Linked DNA regions of Homo sapiens. The protein of the gene in region 3 purifies or fractionates together with the protein of the main gene of each other region. This does not show direct contact. Each region holds a gene or a part of one and is shown on either strand. Other genes may lie near its edges.

Region 1 (3,506 bases), on a different chromosome or scaffold from region 3:
CTCGCTCTGTCACCCAGGCTGCAGTGCAATGGTGCAATCTCAGATCACTGCAACCTCCGCCTCCTGGGTTTGAGCAATTCTCTCACCTCAGCCTCTGGAATAGCTGGAATTAGAGGCACCCGCCATCATTTCTGGCTAATTTTTGTATTTTTCTAGAGATGGGGTTTCACCATGTTGGCCAGGCTGGTCTTGAACTCCAGACCTCAGGTGACCCACCCACCTTGGCCTCCCAACGTGCTGGGATTACAGACCTGACCCACTGCACCCGGCTGCTCATACTTTTAAAAACAAAATTGTCTGCTCCTTCTCATATTATCGCTTTTTACTTATGTCAGCATTGTAATAGTGGCTCCTAATGCCTTCTAAATTTCTACTTCCCAGAGGAGAATATTAATGTATTAGTACATAACAGATTACCAAAATGGTTAAAAATGTTGAGGTTTTCCAGGTTTTTAGCAAGTATAGACTGAGAAAAATATGAAGATTCTGTCGTCTTAGCAAACCAATTAGAGGTAGAGGCTTTAGAAAAATTATTTCATTAGCCTTTGTCTTACTTCCCAATTTCTAGCTGTTTCTGCCAATAGAAAAAGGAAGTCTGGCCTCTGAATATTATTTCAAAACAAGTGAGAGAACATATTTTCCTAGTATTCTAGTTTCTTCTCTTCTCACATTTGCCTCCTTCCCTCTTCTCTTTCCCTGCAAAAAGGCTGCTCTGGGGGAAAAAAAAAAATATCTGCCTCAGACTATCCCTATTAAAAGTTTAAAAGGGGAAGCTTTAATAAAAATATAAATCTTTATTAAAGTAAAATATTTTGAAATAGTTTAAGTATCTAAGTCAATAAAAAGCCAAGGATGGATCCAAACTATCATGGTTTTTGAGCTCAACAAAACCATCCTCTTCTCACGACAAATTCAACTAGAAAGCATGTAATAGAGTTTAATTCATTCATCAAACAGTTAAGACTGAAAACAATTATTCTTCCTCCAATCAGACCTAAATAATTTACCCAAATCTTTCAAGGATTTGATGTTAAATATTTTTATATTTCAAACATATTCCATCTCTATCTTCTCATTTCTTTCCGGATTCCCATGTTGGTATCCCTTATAGCATTCAGATTTTTTTTTTTTAGGCAGTATTTTAAACCAAGGAAAATGAACCCTAAATCCTCTGTTAGCTTTGAGTCAAATGCAAAGAAACTACCATCAATATGATTTCCCAATAGAAGAGGGACTCCCTTCTTCTTTTCCTTCTTCTTTTCCTTCTTCTTTTCCTTCTTCTTCTCTTGTAATCATAACTAATCTATAGGCAGGAATGCTACAGAACAGATAGTTGCGAGTAATCAGGTTTTAGAGCAGGTAGGTTTACCTACCCTGGTTCTGCTTTACCCATGATTTCAGACACTGGAGTGAAAAGCACTTAGGGGCAGATATGCCATTGAGACGATCTTGGGTAATTAATTTCTGTGAACCTGTTCCTCATAAGCATTTTTTAAAGAAATATATGGGATAATACAAAATAATTTTTAATAATAAGTGACACTTATTGAGCACTTTCCATGTGTCAGGCAGAAATACAGGACTCCATGTTTGTTTTCTGCAATAGAAACCTACCTGAACAAGTGCATAAAAGATTTTCAGAATTTGTTTCTGCAGTAATACAGAATAATAGGAGGAATCAGGAAGGAGCTGAACAATTTGTTGCTGAATACGAGGCAGGAATATCTGCATTGCTATTATAAGAGGTTCTCTCTCTTCTGCTTTCTTATATCTACATGAGCAAAGACAAAAACAGAAAAGTAATTTTTCCCACCCAAAGAACCATCAACAATAAATTATAAAATATTTTTTAAATACATAAAACTAACAAAACAAAGTCATTAACATTGGCTTCTAGTTTGTTTGAATTGCTAGAATTAAGTTGAAAAGAAATTTAAAATAACACATCCTGTTTTAGGCACAACACCTAAAATCTTTCTGGAAAGATTTAGACTAGTTTAAAACAACCCGAGACCATTTTGCAGTTTTCCTACATGAATGTTTCTAGTATTTAAATTAATTTTCATCCAGCCAAAATTCTTACTATAAAATATAAGTTGCTATGCTATTTTAAATAGACTATATAACAAATAATATGGGGGGAATTTTCTTATTATATTTCTCCCTGAATTGAGTAGTTAAAATAGTTTAAAATTTAGGTGCTCTTAGATTGCTTTAATTGCCATAAATCTAAAATATGTTCTATAAATTTCATAAGCAGAGTAGGAACTAGTCAGTTTAAAAGGAGAACTACAGGACTTCATATACACATGTAGCAATCTTCCTAGAAACCAGAAAGCAATACTATTAAGTGTGATATTAGTCCTCTACCTACCCAAGCTACTTTTATGGAAAAGAATGTCATTAGCAAAGAAACGTTAACATTTTCTATCTTGCATCCAAAAAAGTAAATGTTTTGGTTTACTTAATATACTCCCTAGAAGACAAATATAAAGGTATCTCTATATCAGAGTTTCCAAGGAAAGCTGTTAATAAATGGTACTGTGCAACTAACAAGTTTGAGAAGTGCTTCATATTATATCACTGTCTCAGAGGTTAGCAATATCCATCAGCACATTAAAGTTTCTTTCAATAACTGCAGCAAATAAACACATTTAAGCATGTTTAACCCAACATTTCCCAAACTAATCTGATAACCTGTGCAGAACATCCACAACAGACCACTCTTTGCAACTTCATTATTTCTAAGTTACACAAGGCTGCTTTCTTCAGCCAATGGAAACCAACTTACTCATATGTCTTCACCAGTTGATACAGGCATAATAAACTGCCAAGCCAGCTTGCACTGCTCTGTGATTGCAAGTAATAGTCTATCTTGTCGACCACTCCTGGCCAGTGACCAGGAAAATCATGTTTTATGATGGCACGGAGACACATTGTTAATTGGACTCTACAAAGTAGGGAAGAAAAGTCCAAAATCTAAGTAATTATAAATACTGTGTTTCAAAGACCTCTAATATTTTACATAAAAGTTTGTTATCTTCTATTTACGTGTATTATATACTTACATATGTGGGGTAGGGGAAAAAGACATATCTAAAAAACATCCTCAGTGGCTCAACTTGTTGAAAATAAACAGAATGGGTGAGTTTCTAAAATGAATGAAACCTTTCAAACTATCTTATCCTAAATACAGTTTAAAAAAATTGTTTTAAATAGTTTAAAATTTTCAAAAAACTCCAATGAATCTACCTCCACTCTGTAAAATTTCCAGCTTATTATATCTCATATTTTGGTTACCATATCCTGAATGGGGGAAAAAATAACACTTCAAACAGATAAACCTAGTCTAAAGATGGTACAAGTAAGTACAAAGAAGGCCTACATAATGGTGGGAAGCTTCTCTATGGGCCAAAACCTTGAACTCATCCATTATCAATTAAAACCCAACATCGTATGTTGAATCTATCCAAAGCAGTCTGAGATACTAATTTTTGTACCCCAAG
Region 2 (3,506 bases), on a different chromosome or scaffold from region 3:
CAGAGTTCCTTCTGGGGGTGATAGTTATACAACTGTGAATAAACTAAAAACCACTGAGTTGTACACTCCATAAGGTTGTTATTTTTTATTTTTTTATTTTTTTTTGAGACGGAGTCTCTGTCGCCTGGACTGGAGCATGGAGTGCAGTGGCATGACCTCGGCTCACTGCAGCCTCCGCCTCCCAAGTTCAAGTGATTCTCCTGCCTCAGCCTCCTAAGTAGCTGGGATTACAGGTGCCCACCACCATGCCCAGCTGATTTTTTTTTTTTTTTTTGGAGACAGAGTCTCACTCTGTCGCCCAGGCTGGATTGCAGTGGCGTGATCTCGGCTCACTGCAAACTCCACGTCCCGGGTTCAAGCCATTCTCCTGCCTCAGCCTCCTGAGTAGCTGGGACTACAGGCGCCAGCCACCATGCCCGGCTAATTTTTTATTTTTATTTTTAGTAGAGACGGGGTTTCACTGTGTTAGCCAGGATGGTCTCGATCTCCTGACCTCATGATCCACCCACCTCGGTCTCCCAAAATGCTGGGATTACAGGCGTGAGCCATCACGCCCGGCGGATTTTTGTATTTTTAGTAGAGACGGGGTTTCACCATGTTGGCCAGGCTGGTCTTCAACTGCTGACCTCAGGTGATCCCCCCGCCCTGGCCTCCCAAATAGCTGGGATTACAGGCATAAGCCACCACACCCGGCCTATTTTTTATCCTTATAGAGATGGGGGTATCACTATGTTGCCCAGGCTGTTCTCAAACTCCTGGGCTCAGGCAATCTGCCTGCCTCAGCATCCCGAAAGTGCTGGGATTATAGAAGTGAGCCACTGTGCCTGGCTGGCTATTTATTTTTTAAAACTACTTGCATAGTCATGCACATACAAACACACTAAAGAATACCTTCAGAAGTATTTCAGCTAAAGAGCCAATCATATGCAGGGCTCCATCTTTTTTTCGAGGGTCAGCATTTGGTTCTGTAAGAATCTGGTAACAAAATCCCATAGTCTTTTGCAGTACCTAGATTAAAAGAGAAAAGTATTGTTACTGAATAGGCCAACAGTCCTTAAAAAACATACTAACAAAATGACTCACATGACTAACATTTAAAAAGTGTATAGTTGAATAAATTTTAAATAATACAGAAAAGTTATCTAAACATTAAATAAGCCTACCTCTTTCCTCTTACTACAGGCTGTAAACAAAAGTGTCTGGGCAGCAGTGGTAGGAGAAATGAAATCTTCAAACACATCTAGAGAACAAGTTTAAAATTAAGACAATAAACATTAATTTCTTCAACAAAGCATTAAAAAACATGCTTAATCTTTACATAAGGTATGAAAATGATCCCAGATCCCTTTATAATTTTGCAAAAGCAGAATTCAATGTCTTTTCTGTACAAATTGAATGCTTTTGTTTGTTTTGAGATGGAGTCTCGCTCTGTCACTCAGGCTGGAGTGCAGTGGGCGATCTCGGCTCATTGTAACCTCCATCTCCCAGGTTCAAGCAATTCTCCTGCCTCAGCCTCCCAAGTAGCTGGTTTACAGGTGCCTGCCACCACGCCCGGCTAATTTTTGTATTTTTAGTAGAGATGGGGTTTCACTATATTGGTCAGGCTGGTCTCAAACTCCTGACCTCAAACGATCTGCCTGCCTCGGCCTCCCAACACGTTGGGATTTACAGGCCTTAGCCACCGCACCTGGCCTGTGAAAATTAAATGTTAATCCATGAATTCCTCCTAATAGCTTTCATTTTTATTTATTAACTCAGAACTCAGCAGTTTAAATCGTATGTATGAAACACTACTGATGTGAGAATTTTCACAACAGGGTCACAAAAGTACAAGCTGCAAAAAGCACAAATGACTTGGTAAGAATAAGGACCAATATTCAACATTATTAGCCAAATTACAATTCTTTAGTTCTGTGCAAGGACTTCATGTGACACCAGCTTCCTAGATGTGTTTTCTCATTTCCCACTCATATGATGGCTAACATAAGATCCAAAAGTATAGTTAAGACATTTAGTGTTGAGGTGTAATCTTGAATATCTAACAGTTTTGGTATTCAGTAATAAAAACTTAACAGTATTGAATTTGTGTCTGCCAAAAATAAGATTATCATTATCAAATGTCATAATTAATAAATAGCCCCAAAAAGGACTACACAAGGGATCAATTACATTAAAACAACAAAGAAGATACATAATACCCCCTAGGTTGGCTACATGCAATCACTGTAATCTTAATTACTGACATTTTTTGTTTCTAAAAACGTGAAAATTCCTTACCAAACTTCATGCGTATATATTCGTAAGGGTCTTCTTGCCAAAGTTCCTCATCAGCATCTGTATAGCACATCAATGGAAAAATAACATCTTGGATAATGCCCTGCAATTTAAAAGTTAAGAAAACAATAACCATCAGTTTTCAAATTTAAACCTTCAAATTTCCTTTAAGTATTAAAACCAAAGTAACACTATATGTATTTTAAAGCTTAATATCAAACGTTAGTAATGCATTTAATGTGTTCTAAGATCAACTATCAAACTACATGTACTTCCCCTTTCTGTAACAAGTAACTTTAAGATATATGTGTACAAAGGTCGCAATTAAGTATTCTAAATATATATAGTCTATAAAATTCTACAGCTCTAAATAAAGCACATAAATTATTCATAGAAATAGCAGGTAAGTCATTTATACTAGAAATGAATCTGGTGAGATAAAGTCCCTTGGCTACTCCAAATTACATGATAAAATATAATCATAGTCCAATATTAAGAACTTAAATTGCAAGTTTGAAGACAACAGTTTTGGATTAAAAGATAAGTTGAATATTCACAAGATACCTCTCATAACTTTATGTCACTGTCTTATCTCCTTTTTCTGCTATACTCTCAAAACAATCACCAGAAGTAGTCTAAGTAACACAACTCAACAAACATGCAATTTTTCAACCTTTATGGCAATTGATGTCATTTCTATTATATTTACTATAAAAACATTTCAGATAAAAATTATTACTTGTATATGGGGCTTCAGATTCTTCCAGGTGAGAGCATGAGAAACTCCTTGATTAATATAATTTAATGTCTGTTGTAAAACTCGAGGAGCCATATATTGCTTCTCCTTGTACTGATATAACACCTTCAATAAAACCTTGGAAAAAAATTTTCGATCACAAATCAATGTTCAAATAGAAATTTCAACCACTTACAAGCCAGTAAAAACAGTTAACACATATTTTAATGACAAGCTCATCATCAAGAAAAACAACCGTATACTTTGAAAAATAATTTAACTCATTTCTGATTAAGAATGAAAAGAAGAGAAAACTATATACTATCTTCGTTTTTCTGGGGTTTTTTTTGTTGTTGTTGTTAGAGACAGTGTCTCACTACGTTGCCCCGGCTGGTCTCTAACTCCTGGCCTCAAGCGATTCTCCCATCTCAGCCTCCCAAAGTGCTGGGATTACAGGTGTAAGTCACCACACCTAACCCATTTGCTACCTATTGAA
Region 3 (3,506 bases):
TACGAGCCTCTGGGTATTTAATTCTTCCAGAAAATGTTAGGGTATTTTTTCCAGCAGGCAATTTAACTGGCTAAGTCTTGGTGACCAGTTCCAATCCATCTCCTGTGGGCTGTGGTTCTAATGTCAGTCCAGTTTTCTAAGTATTCTCAGTGCTATTTGGATCTTTGCCCAGTGTCAGACCCAAACAATTATCGGGTCAGACCTATATATGTATAGACCAGGGGAGAGCCCCAGATTGCATAAACAACTGTTATGAAATCACTTTCTTGACCTTCCTTATCTTTGTCACCACCTTGACACCTTCCACCTCTCAGGAGCCACTTCCTCTTCCTGATCTTCAGGTTAGAAATCCAAGGGTTTAGGTTCTCCTCTCTGCTACACACCTCATGGATACATCACCTCCAGGTCCAAGTAGCAGGAAGATAGATAGGGAAGAAAAGCAATGGGGAGTCTCCTAACCCTTTTTGGCTCACAAATCCTCTGCCCAGAGTGAAGGGTTCCTAACTCTGAGGTTTAGATGCCTGCTCAGCCATCTCTGTCCTCACCACAGGAATGCCCAGGAGCGCCACAATGATCTTGTTTCAAATTCTAGTTTCCTTCCCAAATCTGCCTGTTGTTATCAATCATTACTTTTGAGGGTCCCCAGACAGCTGCTCCATGCCTTAGTTACATTTAGCATGAGAGATAAAGTGGAACATGCTCATTCCATTTAAAGGAGAACTGGTACCACCTAGTTACTTTATTGCCAATGATTACATCCCTGGAGGATAAACTCTCAAACAGGAACTTCCTAAGAATATAAATGGAGAATTCTGATTGAAAGATTAATATTCATCACTTCTTTATCCAATCACTTTTTGCATTTTTATTAAAAATTGACACACATAGAAAAATGTTTTAAATGACCAATGAACATCCACCACATATAGATCCACCACAAAAAACAATTGACTGATTTTGTACATATTTATTTGAAAATATGCTGTCAACATCATGACTTTTCAAAACTTAAAAAAAAAACTTCTGCATGCATCTCCTAAGAATTAGAACATTATCCTACGTAACTCAATTATCACTTCTAGAAAAATCAAATATACCACATTATCTACTACCCATTCCATCTTCCTATTTCCCCAAATATCCCCCCAAATGTCTCTTATAGGTTTTTTTATGAATCAGAAGCTAATAAAGGATCACACTTTCCATTTGGTTATGTCTCTTGTCTTAATCTAGCAGAGACCACTTTTTGTTTTACTACATTTGCTTTTTGAAAAGTCCAGACCAGGGCCAAAATGCACAAACTATGGCTTACAACATCACACCCCTGCGTAGGGCCAGTGGAATGTGTGCAAGATCAGTTTGGCTTCATTAACTATGAAGTAGGGGATAGCAAGAAGCTCTTTTTCCATATGAAAGAAGTTGAGGATGGCCTTGAGCTCCAGGCAGGAGATGAGGTGGAGTTCTCCGTGATTCTTCATCAGCGCACTGGCAAGTGCAGTGCCTGGAATGTTTGGCGAGTCTGTGAGGGCCCCAAGGCTGTTGCAGCTCCTCGACCTGATCGGTTGGTCAGTCGCTTGAAGAACATCACCCTGGATGATGCCAGTGATCCTCGCCTAATGGCTCTTCGTCAGCCAAGGGGACCAGATAACTCAATGGGGTTTGGTGCAGAAAGAAAGATCCGTCAAGCTGGTGTCATTGACTAACCACATCCACAAAGCACGTCATTAATCCACTATGATCAAGTTGGGAGGAATCTGGTGAAGGTTTCTGAATATCTCCCTCTTCATCCCTCCCGAAATCTGGAATACTTAGTTCTTTTGAGCTATTACACCAGTTTTAACAGCTTCCTCGTGTTATGTTTAAAAAAATAAATTTAAGAAAACCATTTTAAAATAAATATATAAAAAAAAGTCCAGTTGTCCTATACCAACTCTGGACTTGTCTATTTATTTCCATACTGTGTAATTCAACTTGTTCCTCTATTCCTGTATTTCTTTAAACAGGAAGATAAGTCTAGACAAAAGATTTAATTAAATTTGAGGTAAACATTTTCGGCAGTACATCAAGGATGATCACACATGCTTCATACCGCATCCCATCAAGAGCCACATAATGCTGGCTTATTCCAGAAGTAGTGAAATGCAGTTTGATAGCCAAATCTCACTGTAAAGGCAATTCTTTTGCAATAGATATCTGTGATGTTCTGACACCTTGTAAACAAAGTTCCTTAAAATTTTTTCCACTTAATGGGTTTTACCATCGATTTTTGCCAGATTTAATTACATTAAGGGTTGTAAAATGGTAATTTTTCCAAATCTATCATTCCATGTACATTTAAAAGAAGACATTCTTCAAATAATTGTATAGAGTTTTCTTTTTTCTCTACTTTCATCATTATGAACTTCTTTTCCTTCTTAGTATTATCACCAGTAAGAGTGATTATTCTAAGTTGTCCTAAATTTGGCCAGTGAGAATACCTTCAACTTGGCGCCTGTTCCCTTCTGACATTACCCCATTAGTCTTCAAATACTATCTTGCTTTTTATTTTATTTTCTTAATAAAAAGTATTTTAGCCACACCACCCACTTCCCCTGCTCCAAACATGGAATCAGCCATTTCTCCAAGGAACCCTGGTTCCTTTTAGTGGGGAATGGCATTTAGAAACCAAAATTTGGGTACTAAGCATGCTCACCACTACTGGGTACAATGTTAAATAGTGAGGTCTGTTTAAAAGCCTCATTTTCTTTGTAAATGTATTTAAATACATAAAATAATTACTTTCTGATAAGCTAAAACCAGTCGGTTAAGAAATATACTATACTGACTGCTTGAGTTTAATTCTAACATTTTTCTCAGAAGGTCTAGCTAATTGTATTAGAATTTTTTTTAATGATACCAACTGTGAATTGAATGAAAAATCAAATATAAAATTGGAGGAAAAACGCCTGGGAGGAATTAAACATTTAAACTGATGAAAGGAATGCTTAATAATAAACTCTTCATATATAACTTTCCATAAAATAATTAATTCCTAAAATATGTGTAATAAGAAGGCAACCTTATATGTGAAGCCTCCAAAAGCAATTACACTATCTGGACCTCAGCTAGCTTTAAGGATTTAAGTACAATTATAACAAAAGCAGGCATAATTAGGGACTCATAAGAAAAAAGAATATAGTTGTGAGTCAATTATTAAGATTAAGGTGAGAGGAAGCCCTTAAAGATAACACAGTAACTTTAAATTACTGCAACTATGTCTAACCAGGCTACAAAACAAATAGTACTCTTGGGACCTCAGGTTGGAAACGAGCCTATAATGATCACAAAACACCAGAACCAAAGACCTAGATTCTAGTCTTGACTCTGTTCACTAAGTTCAAATCCTTCGTTAGTACAATGAAAGGCTATAATTAAACTAAAATCTCTCCTGGCTCTAATGAGCTACCAGACATGCAGCCTGAGATTCTGCCAAATACATCCCTTCTGCAACAGATAACAAAGTATGT
Region 4 (3,506 bases), on a different chromosome or scaffold from region 3:
TACCTACAGAAAAGAGACTGCTTCATCTGTTTCCTGGAAATGCAGCATAAGGAAATAATATTAAATAAACTCTAACTAAAAAAAAGTCTATTAATATCTAATCAACTGCTAATTATCTACAATGGCAGAAGATATGGGAATATTTTTAAAGTTTCCACATAAACAATGTTGATTTTTATAATAGGCTCATCTTCTGATTGTTAAATTCTGGATAATCATAAAATTCACCATATTATCTAAACACTCATCAGCTGGTAATTAAAAAAGAGTAACATGAAGGAAAAAAATACTAAAAACGTGTCAGCCTTGAAAATAGTTTATAAAATACAGTCATGTGCCACAAAATGAAATTGTGGTAAATGATGGATCACAAACACAATGGTGGTCCCATAAGATTATAATGGAGCTGATAAATTCCTATTAGCCTAGTGACTTCATAGCCATGGTAACATTCACAATGCATTACCCACATGTCTCTGATGACGCTGGTATAAACAAACTTGTTGTACTGCCAGTCTTGTAAGTATACCACAATTATGTACAGTACCTAATACTTGATAATGTTAATAAATGACTATGTTACTGGTTTATGTATTTACTATATTATCATTATTTTACTACTTATTTCAAAAAAAGTTAAATGTAAAACAGCCTTAGACAGGCCCTACAGGAGGGATTCCAGAAGAAGGCATCATTGTCAGAGGAGATGACAGCTCTAAGCTAGTTACTGCCTCTGAAGACCTCCCAAGTGGGACAAGATGTGGAGGTGGGAGACAGAGATACTGATGATCCCAACCCTGCTAGGCCTAGCCTAATTGTGTGTGTTTATGTCTTAGTTTTTAACGAAAACATTTAAAAAGAAAAAAAATTTAAATATGAAAAGCTTATAAAGATATAAATACTTTTGTTCAGCTATAAAATGTGTGTTTTAAGTGTTATGATAGTGTGTTTTAAGTGCTACGATAGAAGAATCAAGAAGTTAAAAAAACTTATAAAGTAAAAAAAGTTCAGTACATTAATAATGAAGAAAAAGTATTTTAAAATAAATTTAGTGTAGCTTAAGTGTACAGTGTTTATAAAGTCTATAGTAGGGTACAATAATGTCCCAGGCCTTCACATTCCCTCACCACTCATTCACTGGCTTACCTAGGGCAATTTCCAGTCTTGCAAGCACCATTCATGGTAAGTGCCCTACACAAGTGTACCATTTTCTGTCTTTTATTCCATATTTTTACTGTACCTTTTCTATGTTTAAATACGTTTAGATACACAAATACTTACCTTTCTGTTATAATTGCCTACAGTATTCAGTGTAGTAACATGCTATACAGATTTAGAGCCTAGGAACAGTTGGCTATACCATATATCCTAGGGGTGTAGCAGGCGCTACTATCTAGTTGTGTGTGAGTAGTCACTCTGATGTTTGCACAATGATGAAATAGGCTAAAAATTTATTTCTCAGAATGTAACCCTGTTGTTATGCAACACATGACTATAATTACTCACACAGCTATATTACTGTTAACAGGTCTTCTTTCATTAGATACCAGAAAAATGTTGTTATAGACTACAACTGGAAATCCTTCTACTTTATTCCTTTCCTTTTTCAAGAAGAGTTAAGAAAGCTCCAAATCTTTTTTTTCTTTTTTTGAGACTCGCTCTGTCACCCAGGCTGGAGTACAATGGCACAATCATGGCTCACTGCAGCTTCCACCTTTTGGGCTCAAGGATCTTCCCACCTCAGCCCCCCGAGGAGCTGGGACTACAGGTGCATGCCGTCACACCCTAATTTATTTGCTAACTTATTTATTTATATAGAGATGGGGTTTTACTATGTTGCCCAGGCTGCTCTAAATCTTTTTTGAAATAAAGCTTTAAGTAGTAAACTTTGGGAAAACAATTGTATTCAAAATTAATCCAAAATTTAAAAACAATCCCTTTAAGAAATCCGGCAAAGGCGTAGTTAATTTCCCTGTTTACTAATGAAGACTCACATTTGAAAGCTTTCCAAAGAAGACAATCTGAAATAACCTCATCTTAGATTGAGTAGCTTAAGATATTACAGTGAAGTCTTCAGTAAAGTACCATTAAAAAAAATGTGCCTAATAAAAAACAACACTTCCAAGTCTTAGATGTAATACATAGAAGAATTTAAGAAATTAGCCTGAACTTTATTTCTCTAGGTTAAGGGGAATTAAGGGTAATTTGTAGTAGTTCCTGTAACCATTCAATAACTTCTGTAGCTCTGAAAATTAATTATAAAGACTATGTTTTATAATTTTGGCCAAGTCATATAGATCAGAAAGCCAGATAGATATATTTGGGCTAAACAGAATGCAAAATATTAACAGACTCATCCAAAGGTGCAGAAAACTTCCTGGAGGCCTCTAGAACTGAACTATCAAGCCTGAGTTAGGATAAATTGCCATAAACAAGACTATTCAAGCTTTGGGTAGAAGGCTATACATAAAGGTTCCCTTCAACCCTAAAATGATAAAACATACACAAATACAAACCAAAGCCAGACCAAAAACTGTTTAAAAGTAGTTCATGAACCTTCAAAATGTTCCAAAGTGGCTACATGCACAAATGCTTCCCCAATGTAAATGATTTATCTTTAAACATCAAAAGGATGGTCCTCATCTCACTGGAAATAAACAAGACAAAACTAAAAACATCTTTTTACCTTATTAAAGTAGTCCAGCAGGAGCGGCCATCTAAGCAACGTAAGTAACAACTTATGGTTGTTTTCTTGAACTGTTTAATATCTTCTAATTCTTCTTCTCTCATATCTGGCCTCTGAGCTATAAACAGCTGCATCAGGTTAAACAGTTCTTCTACTGCCTAAAAAAGCCAAATAAGCCATATGATCTTTTAACCCTATAGCATTTTAGAAGGTCAGTTTCTCATTTCTACGTTCATTAATCAACTCTTAAAATTATACAAATAAGCTAGATTATACTTCCATTCAGAAAGTTATAAAATCAGTAACAAATTCTATTTAAAAAATTTTGGCTGGGCGCAGTGGCTGATGCCTAGCACTTTGGGAGGCAGAGGCGGGCAGATTGCCTGAACTCAGGAGTTCGAGACCAGCCAGGGCAACATGATGAAACTCTGTCTCTACTAAAATACAAATAATAACAATAATAATAAACACTAAAAGAACTCAACAAATCTTAAAATACAAGTTTAGAAAGAGTAAAAACTGTAAGTGAATACAATTCATTTTTAGTCTTATTACTGCTTAAAGCACTACTTTTGTAACTTCAAATGTAAACCCAGAGGCATGCCACACCATCTCCTATCCACTTTTTCTTTAATTAATGAGAAATCATTACTTTGTCACAAAGATTTTAAATGCCTAAATAACCCTTAAATTAATAGTGTATATGAGGTAAACCTTTGTTCCAACATTTAAAATGCTTTTCTAGAATGATGCTCAGTTCAATTTCCTGATGAATAAAAAGTAAAAACAAATATTTTAGTAAAATCACTAGCTGTGATTT

The links.
Region 1: the proteins of ZNF354C (region 3) and IPO8 purify together in Homo sapiens (co-immunoprecipitation; 2 studies listed by BioGRID and IntAct, with this or other methods). This does not show direct contact.
Region 2: the proteins of ZNF354C (region 3) and IPO7 purify together in Homo sapiens (co-immunoprecipitation; one large-scale study listed by IntAct). This does not show direct contact.
Region 4: the proteins of ZNF354C (region 3) and USP34 purify together in Homo sapiens (affinity purification with mass spectrometry; one large-scale study listed by BioGRID and IntAct). This does not show direct contact.

What each region holds. Positions count from the first base shown.
Region 1 is NC_000012.12:30,678,868-30,682,373, forward strand, and holds part of IPO8 (importin-8), read right to left. Parts: intron 2,951-3,506; coding exon 2,792-2,950; intron 1,772-2,791; coding exon 1,615-1,771; intron 1-1,614. UniProt on the Homo sapiens protein: Involved in nuclear protein import, either by acting as autonomous nuclear transport receptor or as an adapter-like protein in association with the importin-beta subunit KPNB1.
Region 2 is NC_000011.10:9,422,648-9,426,153, reverse strand, and holds part of IPO7 (importin-7), read right to left. Parts: intron 3,149-3,506; coding exon 3,014-3,148; intron 2,378-3,013; coding exon 2,278-2,377; intron 1,241-2,277; coding exon 1,164-1,240; intron 1,009-1,163; coding exon 892-1,008; intron 1-891. UniProt on the Homo sapiens protein: Functions in nuclear protein import, either by acting as autonomous nuclear transport receptor or as an adapter-like protein in association with the importin-beta subunit KPNB1.
Region 3 is NC_000005.10:179,080,870-179,084,375, reverse strand, and holds the end of ZNF354C (zinc finger protein 354C), read right to left. Parts: 3' UTR 399-3,506; downstream 1-398. UniProt on the Homo sapiens protein: Transcriptional repressor that inhibits endothelial angiogenic sprouting. Suppresses osteogenic effects of RUNX2 and may be involved in osteoblastic differentiation.
Region 4 is NC_000002.12:61,209,086-61,212,591, forward strand, and holds part of USP34 (ubiquitin carboxyl-terminal hydrolase 34), read right to left. Parts: intron 2,845-3,506; coding exon 2,687-2,844; intron 1-2,686. UniProt on the Homo sapiens protein: Ubiquitin hydrolase that can remove conjugated ubiquitin from AXIN1 and AXIN2, thereby acting as a regulator of Wnt signaling pathway.